3 linked regions of the Homo sapiens genome follow. The protein of the gene in region 2 interacts with the protein of the main gene of each other region in a biochemical or structural test. Each region holds a gene or a part of one and is shown on either strand. Other genes may lie near its edges.

Region 1 (7,658 bases), on a different chromosome or scaffold from region 2:
TGCCGTCTGTGTGTATACTGGGAGACGCACACTGTAGCCCAACATTGGCTGGAAGTGTCTCCTCACACACTATGCTCCTCTCCACAGTGTCCTGGCTGAGCGACTGGAGAAGTGGCTGCAACTGATGCTGATGTGGCACCCCCGACAGAGGGGCACGGATCCCACGTATGGGCCCAATGGCTGCTTCAAGGCCCTGGATGACATCTTAAACTTAAAGGTGAGTGTGGAGCCAAGTTAGCCCTGAGGCAAAAGCTGGGGTCCCCAGTGGAACATGCAGTTCTTAGGACAGAGCAGGGGATGGGGCCAGCTGACCTAGTGAGGAAATTTAGGCTCCTGCATCAGTCTTTCTGCATAAGTAAAGAAAGGACAGTTGTGCTAATTGACATTGGCTATGAGGTCATAGCCACAGACAGGATTATGAAAGATGCAAATATGCGAAACATGGCACATGACCTCCCTCCCTCAAGCTAGGCCCTTGCTTTGTGTGGTTGGGAAATGTTGGGAGTAGCAGAGAGAGGACCTAGGCAAATAGATGGGCATTTCCTTGAAGAAATCGGTTTTCCAGTAACATCTGGGTTGTGTTGCAGCTGGTTCATATCTTGAACATGGTCACGGGCACCATCCACACCTACCCTGTGACAGAGGATGAGAGTCTGCAGAGCTTGAAGGCCAGAATCCAACAGGACACGGGCATCCCAGAGGAGGACCAGGAGCTGCTGCAGGAAGCGGGCCTGGCGTTGATCCCCGATAAGCCTGCCACTCAGTGTATTTCAGACGGCAAGGTGAGCCCTGGCTTCGTACACACCATCCTGTTTACCTTGGCTGTGCCTCCTGGGAAACTCAACACACTTTCAGATTTCAATTCTGCTTTGTCATGTAGTCTGTTAATCACACAGTGCGGATACCTGGCTGGTTTTTAAGTTGGAGTATGGTGTCCTCTGTGTGGCCTGATAGGAAACACAAATCTCCTTGCTGGACTTGTTACTTCCAAACCCTCCAAGACCGGTCTCTTGCCTTTATTGCAAAAAATGATGCTATAACACTCGAATCTCTCAAGTTGCCTGCTTGGCCCTCTTCCAAGTGTACTAAAAAAAAAAAAAAAAAGGATGCTGCACTTTCTTGAGTCAACTGAAAGTATTTATGATGGCCTCTGTGTACAGAACTGGGTTAGGCACCTGTGTTAACTATAGCTGTGTAAGACATGACCTCTGCTCAAAAAGACCTTCTCAGCTGACTTGTGGAGCTAAAGTTATCATATGAGAAATAATCATTGCATAGGGAAGTATATAGTGAATTTCTGAACTTCCCAGGGAAGACAGAGAGTAAAATAGAATGTAATACGTTTGTAAATAAAGAGTGTGTTCAGACAGTAAGTGTGGCTGGAAACGTTAAACACTTCATGGATGCTTCCTACTTGCTGGCTGAAGATGATGCTCTTGCTGAACAGTGGGGAAAGCTGTGGAACTTCTTCATTATCAGTTAGAAAAGAGAGGGTTGGATCCACAAGATTCATTTTGTCCTTGTCCCTTTGCAGTTAAATGAGGGCCACACATTGGACATGGATCTTGTTTTTCTCTTTGACAACAGTAAAATCACCTATGAGACTCAGATCTCCCCACGGCCCCAACCTGAAAGTGTCAGCTGTATCCGTAAGAATTTGTTATGTTTTGTTTTTCTAAATAATCCGTTATAATATGTGGGACAAGGCAGGGAAGGGAGACTGGACTAAGGAAGGGGGAGCCACGTAAAGGAAATTAATATCGCCAGTCCTCAGGGCAGCCTTCCTTATTTAGGACATGCAAGGAGTAGCCAGGCAAGAGAGAGTACAGGAAACCATTAGTTAATTTCAACCTCCTAGGACGGGCGTGGTGGCTCACACCTGTAATCCCAGCACTTTGGGAGGCTGAGGCAGGAGGATCACTTGAGCCCAGGAGTTCAAGACCAGCCTGGGTAATATAGTAAGCTCGCAAGTCTACTAAAAATTTAGAAATTAGCCAGATGTGGTGGTGCATGCCTGTAGTCCAGCTATTCAGGAGGCTGAGGCAGAAGGATCACTTGAGCCTGAGAGTTCAAGGCTGCAGTGAGTCATGATCACCCCCACTGCATGCCAGCCTGGGTGACAAGAGCGAGACCTTGTCTCAAAAAAAAAAAAAAAATTCTGTTGAAAATATATGGCCCTATATACATATGTGTCCAATGGTTCGTAAAGTGTTCCTTCAAATCAACAGCTACTTATTGACCACTGGTACATGCTGTTGGTACAAATACATGTATGTGACAGTAACCAGGCATAACACCCTCCAAAGTTACATGATCCTATAGTAGGTACAAAACGTGAAAGTGCCAGTAGTGTCGAAGGCAGGATATGGTTAATTGTAGGAGAGTTATTGTGGTTATTCTTTGACAATTGCTTGTGTCTCTGTCTCCAGTTCAAGAGCCCAAGAGGAATCTCGCCTTCTTCCAGCTGAGGAAGGTGTGGGGCCAGGTCTGGCACAGCATCCAGACCCTGAAGGAAGATTGCAACCGGCTGCAGCAGGGACAGCGAGCCGCCATGTAGCGTGCCAGGCTTTTTTTTTAAACTTAATTTATTTAAAATTCCTTGGTGGCTTTGGCCACAGGGAGGTGGTTGAGGCAGGGACCCAGAAGCAACCGTTATGAGCAACAAAAGGAAGACACTGGTTTGGATGGACGGGAAGCGGTTGGGTGGGCTGGACTGACGGAGGCCCCTTTAGACCTGGCGAGGTGAGTGTGGTTGGCACAGGGTGAGGAGTGTGGAACTGAAGCTGGGCTGGCCAAGCTGTGGCTGGTTTGGGAACCCAGAGGAGCTCACTACCATGTGGATTAGCAAAACTCCCCTGACCGTGCTGCTGGGGACTTACGGACTCTTTCCTCATTGTGACTCGTTTGCCAACATTATTGGCCTTTTGTGTCTTCCTTTGCCTGATGTCAAGTTTAGTGCAGAACCTCAGGCATTGCTGAGGGCTAGGAAATTGTCCTTGGGTTATAAGTGGCTGCTATAATAATAGTGATGATGATAATAATTATAGCAGGGACCTCCCTTGACATTTGAGGGGGTTTTGTTATTGTACAGGAAATGGAATTTGGATCCCAGAGATGCTCCAAGACTGTTCCTTGTGGTCCCTGCAGGATGAATCTCCTCCGAAACAACAGCTGCCTCTCCAAAATGAAGAATTCCATGGCTTCCATGTCTCAGCAGCTCAAGGCCAAGTTGGATTTCTTCAAAACCAGCATCCAGATTGACCTGGAGAAGTACAGCGAGCAAACCGAGTTTGGGATCAGTGAGTGTGCACTTTGCAATGAGTTTAAAGACACCATTTTTTTTTCTTTTTCTCTTTCTAAGGTTTCTTTTGTCCTATTATAATTGAGTTGCTTATTTCTGTTTCAGTTTTGTGGTGTTTTTATTTTGTTTTGTTTTGTTTTTCCTTCTCAATTTTTTTTCAGCATCAGATAAACTGCTGCTGGCCTGGAGGGAAATGGAGCAGGCTGTGGAGCTCTGTGGGCGGGTAGGAGACTCATTTTGGGTTTCGGAACTTACCAAGGGGGTGAGATTTTGTGCTCCCACTTTTCACTTTCTCATCAAACACTGGGTCGATCTCTGTCAAAAATCAGGTGTTCCTCACCATGCTTTGAGCTTAACTGGACCAGCTGAAAAGAGGCCAAGAGAGTAGCCAGTGAAGGGAGCCCCTCTGTGGCCAGATGCAAGAGCTGCATGAATGGACAGAGATGGTCCAGGTTTAAATAAGAAGCAAGGGTTAGGTTCCCTTGGGGAAAAGCCAAGACCATTTCCTGTTAGGAAGGGCATTGGATGGATGATCAACACTCCCTCTTGTCGAAGGTTTTTGACTAATTTTGTTGGGATGCTAAATCCATAGGAAATAAAAGGTCTAGGCAGAAAGTCTCAGGGCAGCGTAAATCAGATGTCACCAAAAAAAGTTAATTATGAAGGCAAAGGAAATACATGTGACTTAATGAACCTCACACAAACTGAAGGTTGAAGTCAGGCTCCGGGGCTTTTTCCTGGACTTATCCTCTGTTTTCCCCTGTGTACTTGGGCAAGGATCTTCACCTGTGTCTTAGTATCGATTTTTATGAATCAGTACTGATGGAGTATATGTGTGTTTAATGGTGAATATTAACCATAGAAGGGCTGAGTGCTCCTCCCCATCTTGGGACTCATAATCTGTGAAATAAAACAGTCTGGGCCTCCCTGCCCGGGTAGCATCAGGATAGACAGATGAAGAGAAGAGAAAGTAATGTGTCTTGGGCATCTTCTGTATGCCAGGCACCATGCCAGAGGCTTTAAGTACTTCATCTTACTTGACTCCTCAGATGGCCCTGTTAGAAGCCTATTTTATGCAAAAGGAAACTGTAGCTGGGGGTAAGTAACTTGCCAAGGGGTCACACAGCTAGAAAGCGGTGGACCCTAGATGCAGGCGCAGCCATTCAGACCCCACAGTCCACATTCCTTTGAGCCAGTCCATTGAGGGTCCTCAGGGAATGTGGCGGGTCCCCTGGTCTCGCTCCCCCGCAGATCTTGCATCTCAGCATGCGCCTACCACATCAGTTGACATTAGCACAGCTTTTCCATTAGGAGAACGAAGTGAAACTCCTGGTAGAACGGATGATGGCTCTGCAGACCGACATTGTGGACTTACAGAGGAGCCCCATGGGCCGGAAGCAGGGGGGAACGCTGGACGACCTGTGAGTACTGGCTGGGGGGCCCCTCTGTGCCCAGCACACACAGACAGCCCTGGAGCTTCGGTGTGTGTGTCAAGGGCACCCTCAGTGGCTGTGCGGGACCATTCTCTAGAGCATGCTTCCCTGTGGGGTCACTTCCAGCAAATCATCACTGAGCTTCAGTTTCCAAATCTGTTCAGTGACAAGAAAAACAGTCTTAAGTCACGAAGTTGTAAGGATGAATTCAGATAATGCATTTGAGACGCAGGCCATAATCTGTAAAGGCTGTAAAATGCAAGCAGCCTCTACCCCTGTAGCAGACTCCCCTGATTTGTTCCACCCACCCTGACTCAGGCATAGCTCAGAGCAGAAAGTAAAACAGAGAAGGAAGAACCTGATGAGGCTTAGGAGTTTGGACCTGGAAACTATTCGTTTGAGTCTTTGTCAGGTATTTGGCATTGGCTCCATGAGGGGCGGAGGGGTCTAGGCAGATCACTCCTACCTGAAGGAGATCACATGTGCTCCTGGCGTACAGATGGAGGGAACCAGGCAGGCCGCTTGAGGGCTGTGTCACCGTGAGCTCAGCAGTGTTCCCTGATTCTCTCACTAGGATTCTTAGGACAGGAGCTCCAAATGTCAGAACTTTGATTCTGTATTTTCTCTAATTAACCCTTTATTCTCCTCTAGTTCTTTTATTTGTATTTGTATTATTTTTTTAAGAGACAGGGTCTTGCCCTGTTGCCAATGCTGGAGTGCAGTGGCACAATCATAGCTCACTGCAGCCTCGACCTCCCAGGCTTATGCAGTCCTCCCATCTCAGCCTCCCAAGTAACCGGGACTACAGGCGCATGCCACCATGCTCAGCTAATTTAAAAAAAAAATGTTTTTGGCTGGGCACAGTGGATCACATCTGTAATCCCAGCACCTTGGGATGCCAAGGCAAGAAGATTGCTTGTGAGCCCAGAAGTTCGAGACCAGCCTGGGCAACATGGTGAAACTCTACCTCTACCAAAAAAATGTAAAAATTAGCCATATTTGACCTCAAGTCTAGACAGAACTTCTTTGTATATTTTAGAGAGGAGCAAGCAAGGGAGCTGTACAGGAGACTAAGGGAAAAACCTCGAGGTAAGTGGGGTTCTGTGTCTGCCTTGGGCTTCTCCTTATCTCATTTATGGGGCATCACTACTCTCTGCTGGCTTCCTTGAGGAACTATGCTACCCTCCCTCTCTCCAGACCAGCGAACTGAGGGTGACAGTCAGGAAATGGTACGGCTGCTGCTTCAGGCAATTCAGAGCTTCGAGAAGAAAGTGCGAGTGATCTATACGCAGCTCAGGTATGAGCCCCGACCTTCCTGCTCTGGAGGAAGGACTGGGAGATGCAGGTATGAGGTCACCTTCCTCCCTCCTCTCTGATTCGCTGGACCTCATGAAGAGAGTTTCTGCAGCTGCTGACTGGATGCACAGCTGCCACAGGTTCTGCTTTCTCCAGCCCAAATGCCATTAGTTTGCCATGTTTATTCTTTGCAGTAAAACTGTGGTTTGCAAGCAGAAGGCGCTGGAACTGTTGCCCAAGGTGGAAGAGGTGGTGAGCTTAATGAATGAGGATGAGAAGACTGTTGTCCGGCTGCAGGAGAAGCGGCAGAAGGAGCTCTGGAATCTCCTGAAGATTGCTTGTGTGAGTGAGTGCTGTGGTCCCGGGCCCTTGGCCTAGCAGCCTCCTGTGCCTTTCCACCTCTGTGCACTGCCGCCATCCCACACGGGACACCACAGAGCCACCAGCAGCCCACTCAGCTGCTGCTCGGGCTTCACGTCGCTGTTCTTTGACTTGGTGTAAGCGGGGAGGTCAGAGGAAGGGCCTGTGCTAATTGTTTTCATTCATCTGTGTATTACTTTCGTGTGGCTACTGTAAAGATTAGCACAAACTGAGGGGCTAAAACAACAGAAATTTGGGCTAGGCATGGTGACTCATGCCTGTAACGCCAGCAATTTGGGGAGGCTGAGGTGGGAGGATTGCTTGAGCCCAGGAGTTCAAGACTGCAGTGAGCTGTGATCATGCCACTGCACTCCAACCTGGGCAGCAGAGCTGTCTCTACTAAAAACAAAAACAAACGTGTTATCTGAGCTCTAGAGCCCAGGAGTTGAAAGTCCCGTGTCAGCAGGGCTGAGCTCCCTCTGAGGGCTCTTGGGGAGGGACTGTCCTTGCTTCTTCCAGCTCCTGGTGGTTCCAGGCGTTCTTTGGTGTGTGACTCCAGTCTCTGTCTCTGTCTTCATGGGACCCCTGTGTCCCTTATCTGGGTGACTCTTACAAGAACACTTGTCATTGGATTTGAGTCCCACCCAAGTAGTCCAGGGTGATGTCATCTCAGGTTCTCTAAAGACGCTTTCTCCAAGTACGGTCACACTCACAGGCTCCAGGAGTTGGGATGTGGGCATATCCTTCTTAGGGCCACCAATTCAGCCCACCGTCATGCACGGCAGTGCAACTTGGTTGACCATCGTCTGCGTCTGCACTGCCCTCAGTGCAGTAAGCCACGCTTTCTGTGCACACCGTCTTAACGTAGCTGTGAGTCCATGGGATGCCACATGGTGGGGAAATGGGAAACAAAACAGCCAAGAACTGAGACGGGCAGGCCTGGCCGTGTTGTGGGAGCCAGAGCTGTTGGGACTGCAAGCCCCATTGTGAAAGGCTGCAGAGAAGGTGACATGGATGAAAGAGTGATTTAGGTGTCAGTTTCCCTTAAGAGCAAAGGGAAGGAGAGAGGGAGATGGTTGCTCATGGTGGAAGCAGGAGATGGTGCATTAGGAGATTCTCATTGTCAAAGGCAGAGGGGACAATCCACACACAGTGCAGAGAACAGAGGGGCTGGGGTCGCATGCCAGAGCACTGAGCATGCCTTGGGAGCGTGATTGACACATCCTCCTGTAAGAAGAGAGGAACGGGAGAAAACAGGATGACGAGGT
Region 2 (7,658 bases):
GTGGGCCTGTGTTCCTCAGCCCACCCAGGCCTGACATAGCCAGGCCCATTCCAAGGAGAAATTCTATGACAAATGCAAATTTGCCATTCACTTTACAAAGCCTGGCTGCAGGCTTCTTGAACCTATTTACCATTCTTTTTATAACAAAGACTCGAGCATCATTTGCTATCTTCATAAATTTCATCAGTACTTTTGCCCCCAGGCCCTGATACAGGGCATTTTATAAGCTTTAAAAGAGAAGTATTACAATGGTATTTTCAATTCAACCTTCAAATCCTTTGCACAAGGAGAGCCAACAGCAAATAGAAAAGACGCCACAGGGGGCATCATGGATCCACAAAGACCCAATATGCAGGAGAACATGTCGGGCAAGGTAGTATTGAGATAAAAACCTGTCACACGTGTACTTAATTTTATACAATAAGCAACAAGGAATGTTTAATGTATATTGTATAAAAAATTTTTCAGGCCGGGAGTGGTGGCTCACACCTGTAATCCTAGCACATTGGGAGGCCCAGGCGGGCGGACTGCCTGAGGTTGTGAGATCGAGACCAGCCTGGCCAACATGGCAAAACGCTGCCTCCACTAGAAATACAAAAATTAGCTGGGTGTGGTGGTGGGTGCCTGTAATCCCAGCTACTCGGGAGGCTGAGGCACAAGAATCGCTTGAACCCGGGAGGTGGAGGTTGCAGTGAGCCGAGATTGTGCCACTGCACTCCAACCTAGGCAACAGAGTGAGACTCTGTCTCAAAAAATTAAAAAAAAAAATTAATTAATTAATTAATTAAAAAAATTTCAAGTGTCATCGAAATCAGCAACTTAGGGTATTTTGTGTAACTGAATATTCTGATTAAGTGGGGGCTGCCCTGTATGCCACTTAACATGACCAATTTCCAAAGATTAGATGGCCATAATTGCCCTTGACACTAAAATCATGTGAAACACAGCCAGTTTCTTTGATGACTCAAAACGTACTTTGTGATCTTGCCAAGCTTTGAGATCATCGTTACAAGCAGCATTTTGGTTGTGAAAAACAACTCTCCTTATTTAACCTTTTGGGGTGGATTCTGAGCAAGAAGTTCCCTAGGCTACGGTCAATCTCGCTGAAATACAACCACCCACCGCTCCTTTCTGGGTTTAGAAATCTGGTTTTCAGAGGTGGGAGTGGCTTCAAGCAGCGTCTACCTGTGTTCAGAAAAGATGAAGAAAGACAGGCTCAGGCTCCCTGTATAGGAGAATTCAAGTTCATTGTAGTCACTGGTGACTGGTTCTGAAATTGAGGAACTAGTTTGAGGAACTTCAGAATAAACAAGAAACCCAAAGAACTCAGCTTCCACAGAAGGCTTCCAATGCATGGAAGGAGGCACAGGTCCAGCTCCGCCCTGTGGCGGGGCAACCTTGACCCTGGCCTCATTTCAGATGCTGCCCCACATGCTCTTTGACAAGCTGGACCAAGTAACCAGCTTGAGGACATGAGTGGCAGAGGGGTCCCTTTATAATGAGGGGTCATATTCTTGTCCTCCCTTGGGAAGGTAAAAAAGGGCTTGGGACATGGGGCATGATGAGGAATATTCTCAGAGGATCTCACACGATTCTTTGGTAAAAGAGGGTAAATCATGAAACAGCCCACGGCTCTCTCGTCCTCCCCGAGGCCAGCAGGGCTTAGCGGGAGGAGTTTGGATTCAAGTCTTGTACTTTCACTCAACAGCAAATATTTAATCAGTGGCTACCATGTTTCAGGCACCGTGCTGGCCAGCAGGAATATGAGGATGACCAAGAGCCTTCTCTGTTGAAACCCTTGAAAGGCCTTCTTGGAATGCTGAACCCAGTTACCTAGAAGCACTGCCTTGATCTACCTGCCTACAACTCTCTAGTGGCACCAAGCCTATGGGATGTGCCAGTGTGGTCACTGCCCTCCCAATTCTCACTTGGAGGGGTGGGAGGTGGTCAGTTATGTGTTTATTAGCTGGCTACTCACTGTCTGATTCTACTTTGAACTATATTTTCTTTTTTGAGAAGAGGACTTGTTCTGTCACCCAGGCTGGAATGCAGTGGTACAACCATAGCTTACTACAGCCTCGAACTCCTGAGCTCAAGTGATCATCCCACCTCAGCCTCTGAAGTAGCTGGACTACAGGTAAGCACCACCATGCCCAGCTAATCTTTTTTTTTTTTTTTTGACAGAGTCTTGCTCTGTCGCCCAGGCTGGGGTGCAGTGGTGCGATCATGGCTCATTGCAACCTCTGCCTCCCAGGTTCAAGTGATTCTTGTGCCTCAGCCTCCCGAGTAGCTGGGATTACAAGTGCCCACCAACACACCTGGCTAATTTTTGTATTTTTAGTAGAGACGGGTCTCACCATGTTGGCCAGGCTGGTCTTGACCTCCTGGCCTCAAGTGGTCTGCCTGTCTTGGCCTCCCGAAGTGCTGGGATTACAGGTGTGAGCCACTGCGCCTGGCAATGTCCAGCTAGTTTAAAAAAATTTTTTTTTTGGAGGTGGATCTCACTATGTTGTCCAGGCTGGTCTCCAGTTCTTGGCCTAAAAGGCAATCCTCCTGCCTTAGCCTCCCAAGTCATTGGGATTACAGGCATGAGCCACTGTGCCCAAGCAACATTTGAGCAAATTTCTCCTGACTGTCCCTACGCTTCTGAAAATGCACTTCTTTCCCCCAGAGTGCTGAAGTTGCCCAACTGTTACCAAGCTCCCGCTCCAAGCTGACAAGTGGTACAAGACCCCAGGGTGAGAGAAATACCAAGGTGTTCCCACCCAGGCACCTGCAGAATCCGAGACGCTCTACGCCTGACAGTGCTGGCTCAGGCTGGAAAAGGAGGGCCACTGGGCTGCGCATGGTGGCCTCCTCGCTCCCTCCAGCTCCTATAGTCATGGCTCCTGACCAGCACCGGGGTTGACCTGTGAGATGTCTGCCTTCGTGCCCAGCTTACCCCTGTCTTGGTGAGGTCCTCCAGGGCGGTGCCTCAATTGTGTTTGGTTTTCTAGCACCTAGCAGACATGGCCCATTTGACACACTTGGCAAATGTTCCTGAGTGAAAGGACAGACACACTTCTGAGGAATAAATGAGTGCCACAGGCTCTGAGAGCCTGGCTGGACAGGGACACGTGTCCACACTGTCCAATCACCTGGCAGGCTGGAAGGGAGGGAGTCACAACTTGGTGGCTGTATTCTAACTGCACCCCAGCAAGCAGGTGTCCTGAAAGATGGCTGTGGAGCCTCTCCTGCCATCCCCTTTCCTAAATGCTGACCTAGAGACCCAATTACTTCTAATTGCTTGAGAAGATAACCCTTCTGAACTGGACAACACCCATCTGGGCTCGGATTTGCATATATTTGCAAGTATCTAATACATGCTAGAGGGAGGTGGTGCAGGACTCTGTCCTTCACATTGATCTATACAAAGCTATTCCTGCCTCTCCAGGCACAGCATCTGCCAGTGGAGACTGTTGGGCAGGACTCAAGGAGTCTGGTGGGTCCAATCAACTCCCTTGGCCAAAGGAGTCCATCTTTTTTTTTTTTTTTTTTTTTTTTGAGACGGAGTTTCGCTCTTGTCGCCCAGGCTGGAGTGCAATGGTGGATCTTGGCTCACTGCAACCTCCACCTCCCAGGTTCAAGTGATTCTCCTACCCCAGCCTCCCGAGTAGCTGGGATTACAGGCATGTGCCACCATGCCCAGCTAACTTTTTTGTATTTTTAGTAGAGATGGGGTTTCACCATGTTGGCCAGGATGGTCTCAATCTCTTGACCTTGTGATCCGCCCGCCTCAGCCTCCCAAAGCACTGGGATTACAGGCACGAGCCACCGTGCCCAGCCTCCATTTATAATCTTAACTGGCAACCACATCCTCATTGGAGGCTGGCTAAGCCTCCTTTTCCTCCCAACCCTCCTGGCTATCCCTAGTATGGACCAGAAACACCTACCTTTTAATTCTGGCCCAGTAAAAGGAAACTTTAATGTCAGTAGAAGGTGGGTGGTAGATTTTGGCTACAATAATTCTTTGCACTTACAGGGGCCACCATCCAGATATGACATCATGACATCATGCTTCACCCACAAGGAAGAGCCTCTCACTGAGAGGAGCCAGGCAGATCAGCTAGGATAACACCCAGAGTATGCATGCACCTCCTGCACAGAAGAAAGATGCAGAAGAGCTTCGTGCACTGTGGGTTTGGACCCCTGTAATCAATCATTGAAAGTTACTAAATACCCACTCTAGGTGAGATACTGCTTGGCTAGGTAGGAAAGTGCCCTAAAGGTGTGGGCAACCTTTGAGACTTCCTGGTAATTGTATTTTCTTATCAACCTTGACCTCCTTTTGATTACATGAACCTCATGGTATAAGACAGCGTCCAACAAATAGCTTTCTGTTTACTTTTTCTTAGACCCAGGGCAGCAGCTGCTGTGGCTCCACCCTTCCCAGGCCTGGCAGAGCTTGCAGAAAGGCTGAGAGTGATAGGGTTGTGGTAGGGGAATAAAAGGAGAAGCTAGTTTAAAAAAAAAAATCCTGCTTCAGGATTAGTTCCTTCGTTCCCTGGCAGCAGAGTACAGTGAAGAGTCTGGGTTTTATAGTTCAGGCTCTGCCATTAACTAGCTGTGTGGCCTTGGGCAACCCACTTGGCTTTCTTGGGCCACCATTTTCTCTTCTGCATTTTCTCACTGCAAAAAATGTGAATGATCATGTCCAGGCTATAATCCTAACAGCTCTTTCTGGACAGTGAGGTTAAGGTTATTTAGCCATGCCAGCAGGAGGTGACTACTGGTTGGTCCAGACTGATGGGGTATGGGTACAGGGGCTGGGTTGGTAGTCTGCCAGAGACAGGGAACGAGATTATTTGCAAGAGCTGCAGCTTCATTAAAGTCAAGCCCTCCTTGTAGTTGGTCCTGGACATTGCTTATAGATGTCCCTGACCATAATCGGTCAAGTTCAACACCAACTGCACTAGTCCAGAACAGTGTCTGAAGAAAATCTCTGCGTTAATGGACACCTGATAGTGGCTTTAGCAGAAAGAGCGTCAGGAGAAGCTGTAGTAACCAGAACCTGGGAGGGAGGGATGGCTCAGGAGTACCCCCTGCTGCTTCTTTCTTGGTACAAATCCTGGTCCTAGAAGTGTAGACAACTGAGATGGTGGCAGGCTTGGGATTCCTAAAGCTTTCTGAAATCCAGGGTTTAATCTAGCCTTTACAATCGCTGGAGCTCTGCAGAGACTCCAACTCAGGTGGCTGAAAAGGAGGCAGGTGGAAAAGCGTTCCTAAAAGGTTTTTCACACCAAAATAGGGCTTGTCTCTCTGCTCTCTGCCAAGGGATTTCCCAGCTCCCCAGGGCCAAAGCTCCCCTCCTGCTTCTTTGCTGACTGTCACTGGAAGCAGGCCATTTTCCACCCTCAGGGTGGCTGGACTTAGGAGTCAGTGACACTGCTGATCTGGGCTCTGTGCCCCGTCCACGATCCCCCCTCCGCTGTCAGCCCACTGGCCCCAGAAGCCTCCTGTTTACCTCCTGCCCCCTGCCTCCATAGCCCTGGGGCTGGGATGAGGCTGATTTGTGGCAGAGGGCTCCTCACGAAGGTCTGCTCAGGACTTTCTCTGCAACTGTGCTGGGGAATAAATCGCCTGTCACCTACACCCCTGCATGGGTGACTCACCTTCCAGAGAAAGTGCTCTGCTCACCTAAGCAAAGCTGCTTGGAAAATGACTAAGGCACCTATCAAATGCACTCTGTGGGGCCAACCAGTTATGGAGCAAGGTCCAGGCACACTCTGCCTCTCACCTCCAGCCTGAAGTCAAGTGCAGAGCTGCCACGCCAGGCCTGCTGGTTTCATTTTCATCTGAACCGAGCTCCACATGAGGCTTGACATCCGGTGATCTATTTTTTCTAAAAACTAGCTTCACTTTAGAAATGACTCTTCGGCCATCAAGTCAGCTTCCCCAAGAGAAAACAAAATGTTATTTAAAGGGAACAGTAGCCTGGTGAGAGCCTATATTTTTGTTTTGTATTAAGGTGAAAAAAGACTTTAAAATATAACATGAAACTTTTTTTTTCCCTTGTGAGATTAAAACAAACGTTTTTCTTTCAAGAGATGGGGTCTCGCTATGTTGCCCATAGCTACTTGACCTCCTGGGCTCAAGTGATCCTCCCGCCTCAGCCTCTCAAGTAGCTGGGACTAAAGAAACACACGTCACCATTCCAGGCTTCTTGTGAGATTTAAAGGGGAATCTGCAAGTCCTTGACTGCAGATCGTGGGCCCCCAGACAGAGTCTCAGAGAGAAGCTGACAAAGACATCTTTACGAGGGGGAAAGGGTGGTGAGCTGGGGATGCCATGTGGTAGTGGGAACCTCATCCCACAGAACCAAATGTTCCCTCCTGTTCCCCCAAAGAACAAGTCCTTGCTGATCTACATGCCATACAGTATTTTCCCTTTCCTCACCTCCAGGATTAATGCAGGAACCTACTTGATCACGTGTGGGACACAGGAAGCCCCTAGACAGGCCTAGCTGTGTCTCCAGCTCAGAGTTAGGATTGTCAACTGGGCAGAGCCTGGACCTTTGTAGCCTCATTTGGAGTATGGTGAGGGCAGTATATAGTGTAAGACAGGGAGAACCCGAGAGCTGAAGCTTTTAGACTGAAGGACTGTCCCCCTAAAGGTCCTACTGAGAAAATGACTCTGGCCTGTCAGGCAGTCTGACCCTTCTTGACATCATCTTACAGAAAACAGGTTTAGTCACAATGCAGTAATTGGCAACTACTACTGCTACTATTACTACTACTACTACTACTACTATTACTACCACCACCAAACACCACCAACAAGAACAACAACAACAACAACAACAGTTACAGCCTCTATGTTCTGTGCTGGGCACTGGGCTCAGCACTTTACATATCTCCTCTCATTTTCTACTCAAAACAGCCCCATGAAGTATTTCTGATCCCATTCACAGATGAGGCACCTGATGATTAGAGAAGTGAAGTGATTTGCTTGCGGGCACACAGGCAGGCCGTGGCAGACCTCGACCTGACCCAGGTCTCTCTGACCTGACAGCCTCAGCCACCACATGTGACACGGAGACACCAAGGACTTGTTCTGTTGCTCTGGACAAATCACGGGCTCTCTGCCTTTGTTTCTACATCTGGAAAATGGGCACAAGCACACCTGTCCAGGCAGCAGGCTATTCATCTTTTGGCCTTTTATTAATTAAAAATCAATATCAATTAATAATTGATTGGTACAATAAATAAATAAAGCTGCTACCCTGGTTTCGTTATGTTCAAAATTGACATGTTTGGGGGAAGAAAATCCTTATCGTTTCATGAGCAAGGTAGTAGAAAAAGCAGTGACCTAGATATCAAGAAAAGGGGGTTTAGATTCTGAGCAATCCTGTCTGTTTCTCCTTATGAGGCTTCACTTTTCTGATCTTTGTCCCTGCCCTTCTTCACATGAGTATGGTGTGAAAATACAAAGACTGGCCATAAAATTATTCTTGATGCCACATAATTTCAAGGGATTTCTATCAGGGAGCTGAGGGATTAAGACATGTAGAAAAGCAAGAAGGGAAGAGGCTCCTTTAAACTAGAATACAAAGAGCACACCGGCCACTGAAGAAAAATGACTTTTTCTGCATTGTCATTCAGGCAGTCATAAGCCCAGAA
Region 3 (7,658 bases), on a different chromosome or scaffold from region 2:
TTCATTTAATTTCTTAGAAATTATCTCACGTATGCAAATCTGAATAATCATAGTTTGCCTGACAGTTGCTCTTCCAAGTAAAAATGGTATCTTCCCTGAAAGAGGCCAGACAACTAGCAACGTAAACAATTACTGAAGTGGTTTTCCTTAAGACAACCATCATACTTCACTGTATAGAAGAAACACTTTATGAGTACTTCCCATTTCATCACACAAAATATTAAAAACCCATACTCAAGCGTTGAGATTTAAATAAAATAATATTTTTACTGCTTTATCAAGGACATTTGTAAGTGAAACTGTCATTTTTTAAAAACTGTGACTGCATGGTGGTAAAAAATATAACGGCTACTAGCATAGTTTGGCGCTAGTGCCTTGATTCATACTAAGGTGAAAGCCATTTTATGTTGCACCATCAATGAAAATGTCAACATGGTGAAAAATGCAAATAACATCTTATTATGAAAATGGTTCTAACCTCACAGACTCTCTGACAAAGTTTCAAGGATTCTCACAGGTCCATATGCCACATTTTGAGAACTGCTGGTCAGACTAAACTGAATACATTTCAGTAAAATAAAAGCAGTATAAGAGGAGATAATGTTATTTTTTAAATGTGAAAATAGTATATGAAATACAATTTCACATGTATATTAATTTGCATGTGTTGCTATGTGTCTACAAATTTTAAAGTGTAAAAGTATATCTTTTTTTAACATGCATTTAAGTATAATGCACATTAGGGCACAGACTTTATTTCTTCTGTTACCCTTCAAAACAAATTTTTAACTAAATGATAATATCTTGCAAGTACATAATAGTTTATAGTTTTCAAAGCATTTTCACAAACATCCTCTTAAATACACTGTCACAATATACTCACTGAGTAGGAAAGCTAGGTTTCAACCCCATTTTGCAGAAGAAGGAAATGGGAAACGCAGATTTGCCTGAGGTAACGGTCAGTAAATTACTCAATCTAGAATTCAAGCCTCTGATTCCCCATCCAGTACTCTTTCCAGCAGACCTTGCTCAGTATTTAGCAGATGTTCAACTGGAATTATTTTGCCAACAAAACAAGTCATCAGTGACCAGTGCAGATGAAGGCATTATTTTCAAAGCAATCTGCTTTGGCCTAGAACAGCACAGGCCTTCCCTCTAACCATTCCATACCTGAACCCACTGCCTCAAATTCTTTCCAACCTCTATAATATTTTTTTGTTTTGTTTTGAGACAGAATCTCGCTCTGTCACCCAGGCTGGAGTGCAGTGGTGTGATCTTGGCTCACTGCAACCTCCTCTTCCCAGGTTCAAGCGATTCTCCTGCCTCATCCTCCCAAGTAGCTGGGATTACAGGCACATGCCAACATGCCCAGCTAACTTTTCTATTTTTAGTAGAGATGGGGTTTCACCATGTTGGCCAAGCTGGTTTTGAACTCCTGACCTCAGGTGATCCACCCACCTTGGCCTCCCAAAGTGCTGGGATTACAGGCATGAGCCACCACAACTGGCCCAACCTCTCTAATCTTAAGCAACACTTATTTTTTCCATCTTTCTAAACATTTTCTTGCTGCTTTTTCCTCTCTGAGTTCCTTTTTTCTGTCTTCCATTCTTTCTTTTCACGTCCCCTTCTAAAATTTTTCTACCTCACGTTCTCTGTTACTTTCTCTTTATCATCTCCTAAATTCTCACAATCTTAAAGCTTATTATACCATGTCTCAATGGCAATACCAAAACTGGAATTTATTCTGCAGCTTTAAGAAAATTTTTAACTTAAAAATATTAGATCCCCCACATTTGTTAGGCTAGTGATAGTTACCTAAAATGCCTTCAAGCACTGTGGTAGAAGTGTCTTACCTGAAGGTCTGTGTTTTAACTGCTTATATAGATCAATGGCACGCTGTTCCCTATAAAAGAGAAAACACGCTCTGATAAGTGAAGGTAATTTAATGACTTCAATAATCTACAACTTGAAACAATATTTTATTTGAATAATGAACCCATTTTAAAGCAAGTTCATATTGCCAACAAGTATTTCACAGAGCATTGTATTGAGTAATAAGAACTATACAAGTTCTTAAAATGCAAAGTTTAATATAGTTCATATCTATTCTGATCTATCATGGGGACATCTCTGCACCACAGACACTTAAAAAGACAAAAATTATGACCTATAATTCGAGAAAATATCTGAAGTTTTTAATCCAGAACTTTAATTCAGAAAAAATTTCAAGTTTTAGGGCATTTAAGAGTCAATACCTTGGACCAGAGGTATAATGAGTAGGGAAATAGTTTGTAACTTAGTTATACTTGGAAAATTCTTAACACTCCTATGAAATAAATGCTTTTATTAAAAACCAAAAAAGGCCAACCCAAAGAATTATTTCCGAAGTTTCCTGTGACTGAGAAAAAGCTTCCATTTTAAATATAATGCCAATATATTTGGGGAAAGGAAAACTATAGAAAAGAACCACTAGAGGTTTAATTTGCCAGATGTAAGCAGAAAGAATACAAAATATTACAGATGTCAAGACCAACAACACAAGTGCATCCTTACAGAGATTCCATCAAGTCTCCCTGACGTCTTCCATAGGGGCTCTTCTGTAGCTCCATGATTTCAGCATGCAAAGACATAATCTGATCCTCCAGGTATCCAATGACACCAACCTAAAATATGATGAAAATACAAAGGAAATGAAAGGCTTACCACTACATCATAGGAAACAAAATTCAGATCTTAAGGATACAGAATGACTTGCTGCTTCATTAGAGAACTAAATAATATAATACGAAACACTGATTTTGTTAAAGCCTTTCTATTCTTCAGATTCTGACACTTAATCTTTCACATAAGAACATACTTAGTCTTAGTCTTCTCTCTTTTCTCTCCTGACAACAGTAAACTACTAGTATTTGCTTTTACCTCCGGAGAAGCAAAAAGCTACAACAGGTATCAACTAACAAGAAAGAAAAAGGACCACCAAAACCATTGGTATTACTTGTATCTTGGCTCTATGATTTTGACTGCCCCCTGGTCCCCACTACCTTGAATAGGGACACAAAAAGATAAAGAACTTGGATTTCCCACCCCAGGACACCATGGGTATCCCCACCCACATCCTCAGGGTAAGTACTGACATTAAGGAGTGTAATAACTTAGGACCGTGGACAAATGTACAGGATAAGGGGAAAAAATCTGCCACCTAGAGAATGAGCTATACCTAGGGACACCATATAATTTATTGTCCAAACCGGCATAATTTTGAGAGTGAAAGGGACTACTACTGATAATTATGGCAAGACATTAAGTATAAACTGGGACAGTCCCAGGTAAACCAGGATGTGCAGCCATCCTATCTAAACCAGTCACAAAAATAATAGTGACAACTACCATTACTGACTCCCATTTAATCTTCATAACCCTACTAGAAAAGAAATTGTCCCTATAATATGGAAACTAGCTGGATGTGGTGGCTCATGCCTATAATCCCAGCTCTATGGGAGGCTGAGGTGGGAGGATTGCTTAAGCCCAGGAGTTTGATACAAGCCTGGACAACATAGTGAGACCCCGTCTCTACAAAAAATGTAAAAGTTAGCCAGGCATGGTGGTGCACCTCTTGTCCCAGCTACACAGGAGGCTAAGATGGGAGGACTGCTTGAGCCTGGGAAGTCGAGGCTGCAGTGAGCTTTGATCATGCCACTACACTCCAACCTGGGCAACAGAGTGAGACCCTGTTTCAAAAAATAAATAAATAAAGGAAACTGAAGCTCAGTGAGGCACTAGGTAATTTTCCCAAAGCCCTTGTTTTTAATCACTATGATACATCCCTCTTTATATACAAAGCATCTACTAGAATTTTGTCTGAATTTCAGGAATGACATGAAAAATGCTCTTTATATATCAAAACCAAAGATAGTTTCTAATGGAGACATCAAGAATTAATAAGTATACAGAATGACGTCAATGATTTTACCTCAGCATAGTGGATGGCCTTTTCTTCCATTTCTTTCCATGCTTTTAGCATTTTTTCTGAAGCTAAAAGAAAAGTCTAAATTGGTTATCTCAGAAATAGCCATATCTTTAATTACTGGCTGCCTGCCTCCTTGCCATATCAACATCAAAGATGTGTTATGAGTTGAATTGTGGTCCCCCAAAAGATATGTGGAATTCCTAACCCCTAATACCTCAGAATGTGACCTATTTGGAAATAAGGTCATTACAGAAGTAATCAGATAAATTAATACTCATACTGGAATGGTCTGGGCCCTTAGTCCAGTACGACCAGTGTACTTAGAAGAGACACAGGATACAGATACACAGGGGAGAATGCTCTGTGACAATGGAGACAGATTGAGGTGCTGCAGCTGTAAGCCAAGGAATGCCAATGATGGCTAGCAGACCATAAGAAGCTAGAGAGAAACAAGGAAAGATTCTTCTCTACAGATTTCAGAGAAAACATGGCCCTGCCAACACCTCAATTTTGGACTTTTAGCCTCCAGGGCTGTGAGACAGTAAGTTTCCATTGCTTAAGCCACTCAGTTTATGGGATTTTGTTATGGAACCCTTAGGAAATGAATACAGATGACTTTTTTCTTAAAAATATATATATTTATACCAGTGTGCAGATGGGTGGATAAAGGAAAAAACAACAAAAAAAATTTTTTTTTGAGGTAGAGTCTCACTCTGTCACCCAGGCTGGAGTGCAGTGGCATGATCTCAGCTCACCGCAACCTCTATCTCCAGGGCTCAAGCGATCCTCCCACCTTAGCCTCCTGAATAGCTGAGGTGTGCACCACCATGCCCGGCTAATTTTTACATTTTTTGTAGAGATGGCGTTCTACCCCATGTTGCCCAGGTTAGTCTTGAATTCCTGAGCTCAAGGGATCCACCTGCTTTGGCCTCCCAAAGTGTTGGGATTACAGGCGTGAGTCACCACCTGGCCAGAAAAGAAATTTAATACTTGAATATGATTTTTAAAAATTAAATACTATAAAAGGATATAAACAGAAAAGACTCTCTCTTCTACCCCTCTACCATCCACCTCAAGGGACCTTACTATGATTATCTGTTACATAGACACATAGCCTGCTCCCTCACAAGTGAAAACATCTGTATACTCTTTATTTTTTCCCACAATTTAAAACTGTCAACTAAAGACTTAGGTGATCTTTTAATAAAAGCACATATAGATCTACCTCATTTTTCTTTAACAATTGTATAATAAGCCTTTGACAAGTCTAAGATATTTTAATGAAATAATTATAATGTTTTATCACTCACCAGAATGTCAATAATATACAAATAGAAATAAAATATCAATAATATATAAATAGAAATAAAATATCAATAATATTAATAAAACCAGTTCTGGAGAGTAAATTCATTCACCCAACTGGACACTATTGATTGTTTACTCTGAGATACACAGAGTTTGCTCAGGACAAGTATATGTTTTTAGGAAACAAGTATTTGTTTCCTAAAAAGGATTTGTTTTATAAAAGAAAACAGAAATGCTGGTAGTATGACTCCTTCAATTTACTCATATTTTAACTCTGTTTTTTTACACTTCCTTAGTACATCTGAAGGAGATAAGCTTGGAGTCAAATATGGAAAATTTGGAGACTGTGTACACTAAAAAATAGTAGGACTCCACAGTAGATGGTTTGAAAAAAACATAGCCTTAGAATATTTGTGTCATTATTTACAGAAAAGTAAGCAGTTTAAGACTCCCCTGGTTGTCTTAGTCCATTTGGACTACTATAACAAAATACCATAGACTAAGTGCCATAAAAACAACAGAAATTTATTTCTTATAGTTCTGGAGGCTGGGAAGTCCAAGAACAAGGCAGATTTGAGGGCCTGCTTTCTGGTTCCTAGATGACCATCTTCTTGCTCTGTCCTCACATGCAGAAGGGATGAGGGATCTCATTCAGGTCTCTTTTGTAAGAGCATTAATCCCAAACAGGAAGGCTCTACTCTCATGACCTAATCACTTCCCAAAGGCTCCACCTACCAACACCTTCACCTTCAGGGTCAGAATTTCAACATATGTATTTTGGGGGGGATACATTCAGTCCACAGCACTGGCTAAGAAGTCCAGATTTTGTATTTATTTTAAAATCAGGTTTGAAATTCAAGATTATTAAATCGCACCTGTATTTTTTTAGAGCTAAATAATTTTAGCCCAATTGTGAAGCTAAATTGCTCAACTAAGCAAATTTAAAAAAAGAGGTAACATTCAAAACAAACATGGTTTATGTTAATTTAAGTTGTCCTGTCTCTTGTTCTAATGTGAAGGTAAGTAAAACAACTGGCTGAGTTAAGAAGGCAAAATAACAGATGGCTTCAAGAAACCAGATGCTCCTTTCAAATACATTACACAGACACTTACATATCCCATACGTCATCTGCTCGCTGTATCTCTCCAAGTCAAGCTGAATGCTTTTGTGAAAAAACTCCAATTTAGCTTTCAGTTGTTGTGATGCTGAGATCAAAGTGTTCTTCATTTTTGTTAAGTTAGCATTATATCTAAGAAGACTTAACCTAAACCACAGCAAGAAAAAAAAGAAAAAGAAAAAAGATATTATCAGCATTCAGAAACATTGAACAATAATGTAAAAACATAAACTGCCACAAGGCCAAAGCCTAAGTTTCTATTATCAATCTATGAGAAATAACTGAGCTCTAGAATCTGATCTCTAAAGACTTCCTGCCTATAATATTTTGTGATAAACAATCTTTTTATACTAGGACCGTATGGGAATTATTACCCTCAAGCCATTACAATAGAATGGTCTCAGTCCATTAGTAAGAATTCTACAAGTTTATCAGAACATTACACTTCAAATTGGCCCAGTATGTTACTATTACATGCAATATTGATTAGTGAAAACCGGCAAGATTAATTCTTGAGTATATGATGCACATTGCATTGTGCTTATAAACAACAGAATCCACTTACATTGCTGCCCTTTGTCCCTGAAAGAGCCTGCTATAGTCTTCTTTTAGTCCAGACACATAGTGCACTGCTTCAGCCCACACTTTACGCAGCTGTATAATTGGAAGCTGTATTTTGCTGTCCTGTACTATATACAAGAAGATGAGAAAAAGGGCAAGGGAGGTTAGTTACTTTTGAGGATTTTAGAGTTGATTTATCATTCTTTGTGATTTCCTGTCCACACAAACAGGATTCCCATAGATGCTAGAAACTGATGCTAAAAGAACCACTTGTTTCCATTTAATTCAGTTCAATATACATTTACAGAGCACCTGCAATACTTAAGCCCCGCTCCACATACAAGGGGGGAAATAAAAATGACACAATCGCTACACTCACAGAGCTTGAGATTATTCCTGTATCTGTCTTTTTTGCTTGCTTTTCTGCAACCTGGAATACTCTTTTTCTCTCTGCTAATCCAAATTATTTCTTTCAAGTTCTAAATCAAGTCCCATCTCCTCTGAGTCTTTCCTACCTCTGAATAATAAATTTCATATTCTGGACCAACAATCCAGGTTTAAGAATACACACAAGAGCCAGGTGTGATGGCTCACGCCTGTAATCCCAGCACTTTGGGAAGCCAAGGCGGGCAGATCCCTTGAGGTCAGGAGTTCAAGAGCAGCCTGGCCAACACGGTGAAACCCTGTCTCTACTAAAAATGCAA

Evidence for each region. Proteins that work in one complex are often made in the same cells at the same time.
Region 1: of the proteins of MAP3K14 (region 2) and IKBKB, one has a biochemical effect on the other in vitro, tested with the Homo sapiens proteins (3 studies listed by BioGRID and IntAct, with this or other methods).
Region 3: of the proteins of MAP3K14 (region 2) and CHUK, one has a biochemical effect on the other in vitro, tested with the Homo sapiens proteins (5 studies listed by BioGRID and IntAct, with this or other methods).

Annotation. Positions count from the first base shown.
Region 1 is NC_000008.11:42,316,123-42,323,780, forward strand, and holds part of IKBKB (inhibitor of nuclear factor kappa-B kinase subunit beta), read left to right. Parts: intron 1-87; coding exon 88-217; intron 218-587; coding exon 588-782; intron 783-1,534; coding exon 1,535-1,649; intron 1,650-2,429; coding exon 2,430-2,553; intron 2,554-3,147; coding exon 3,148-3,299; intron 3,300-3,462; coding exon 3,463-3,524; intron 3,525-4,612; coding exon 4,613-4,722; intron 4,723-5,773; coding exon 5,774-5,823; intron 5,824-5,931; coding exon 5,932-6,031; intron 6,032-6,224; coding exon 6,225-6,372; intron 6,373-7,658.
Region 2 is NC_000017.11:45,306,509-45,314,166, forward strand, and holds part of MAP3K14 (mitogen-activated protein kinase kinase kinase 14), read right to left. Parts: intron 5,930-7,658; exon of another isoform or gene 5,777-5,929; intron 1-5,776.
Region 3 is NC_000010.11:100,198,118-100,205,775, forward strand, and holds part of CHUK (inhibitor of nuclear factor kappa-B kinase subunit alpha), read right to left. Parts: intron 7,083-7,658; coding exon 6,959-7,082; intron 6,541-6,958; coding exon 6,389-6,540; intron 4,033-6,388; coding exon 3,971-4,032; intron 2,664-3,970; coding exon 2,554-2,663; intron 1,904-2,553; coding exon 1,854-1,903; intron 1,052-1,853; coding exon of another isoform or gene 984-1,051; exon of another isoform or gene 1-983.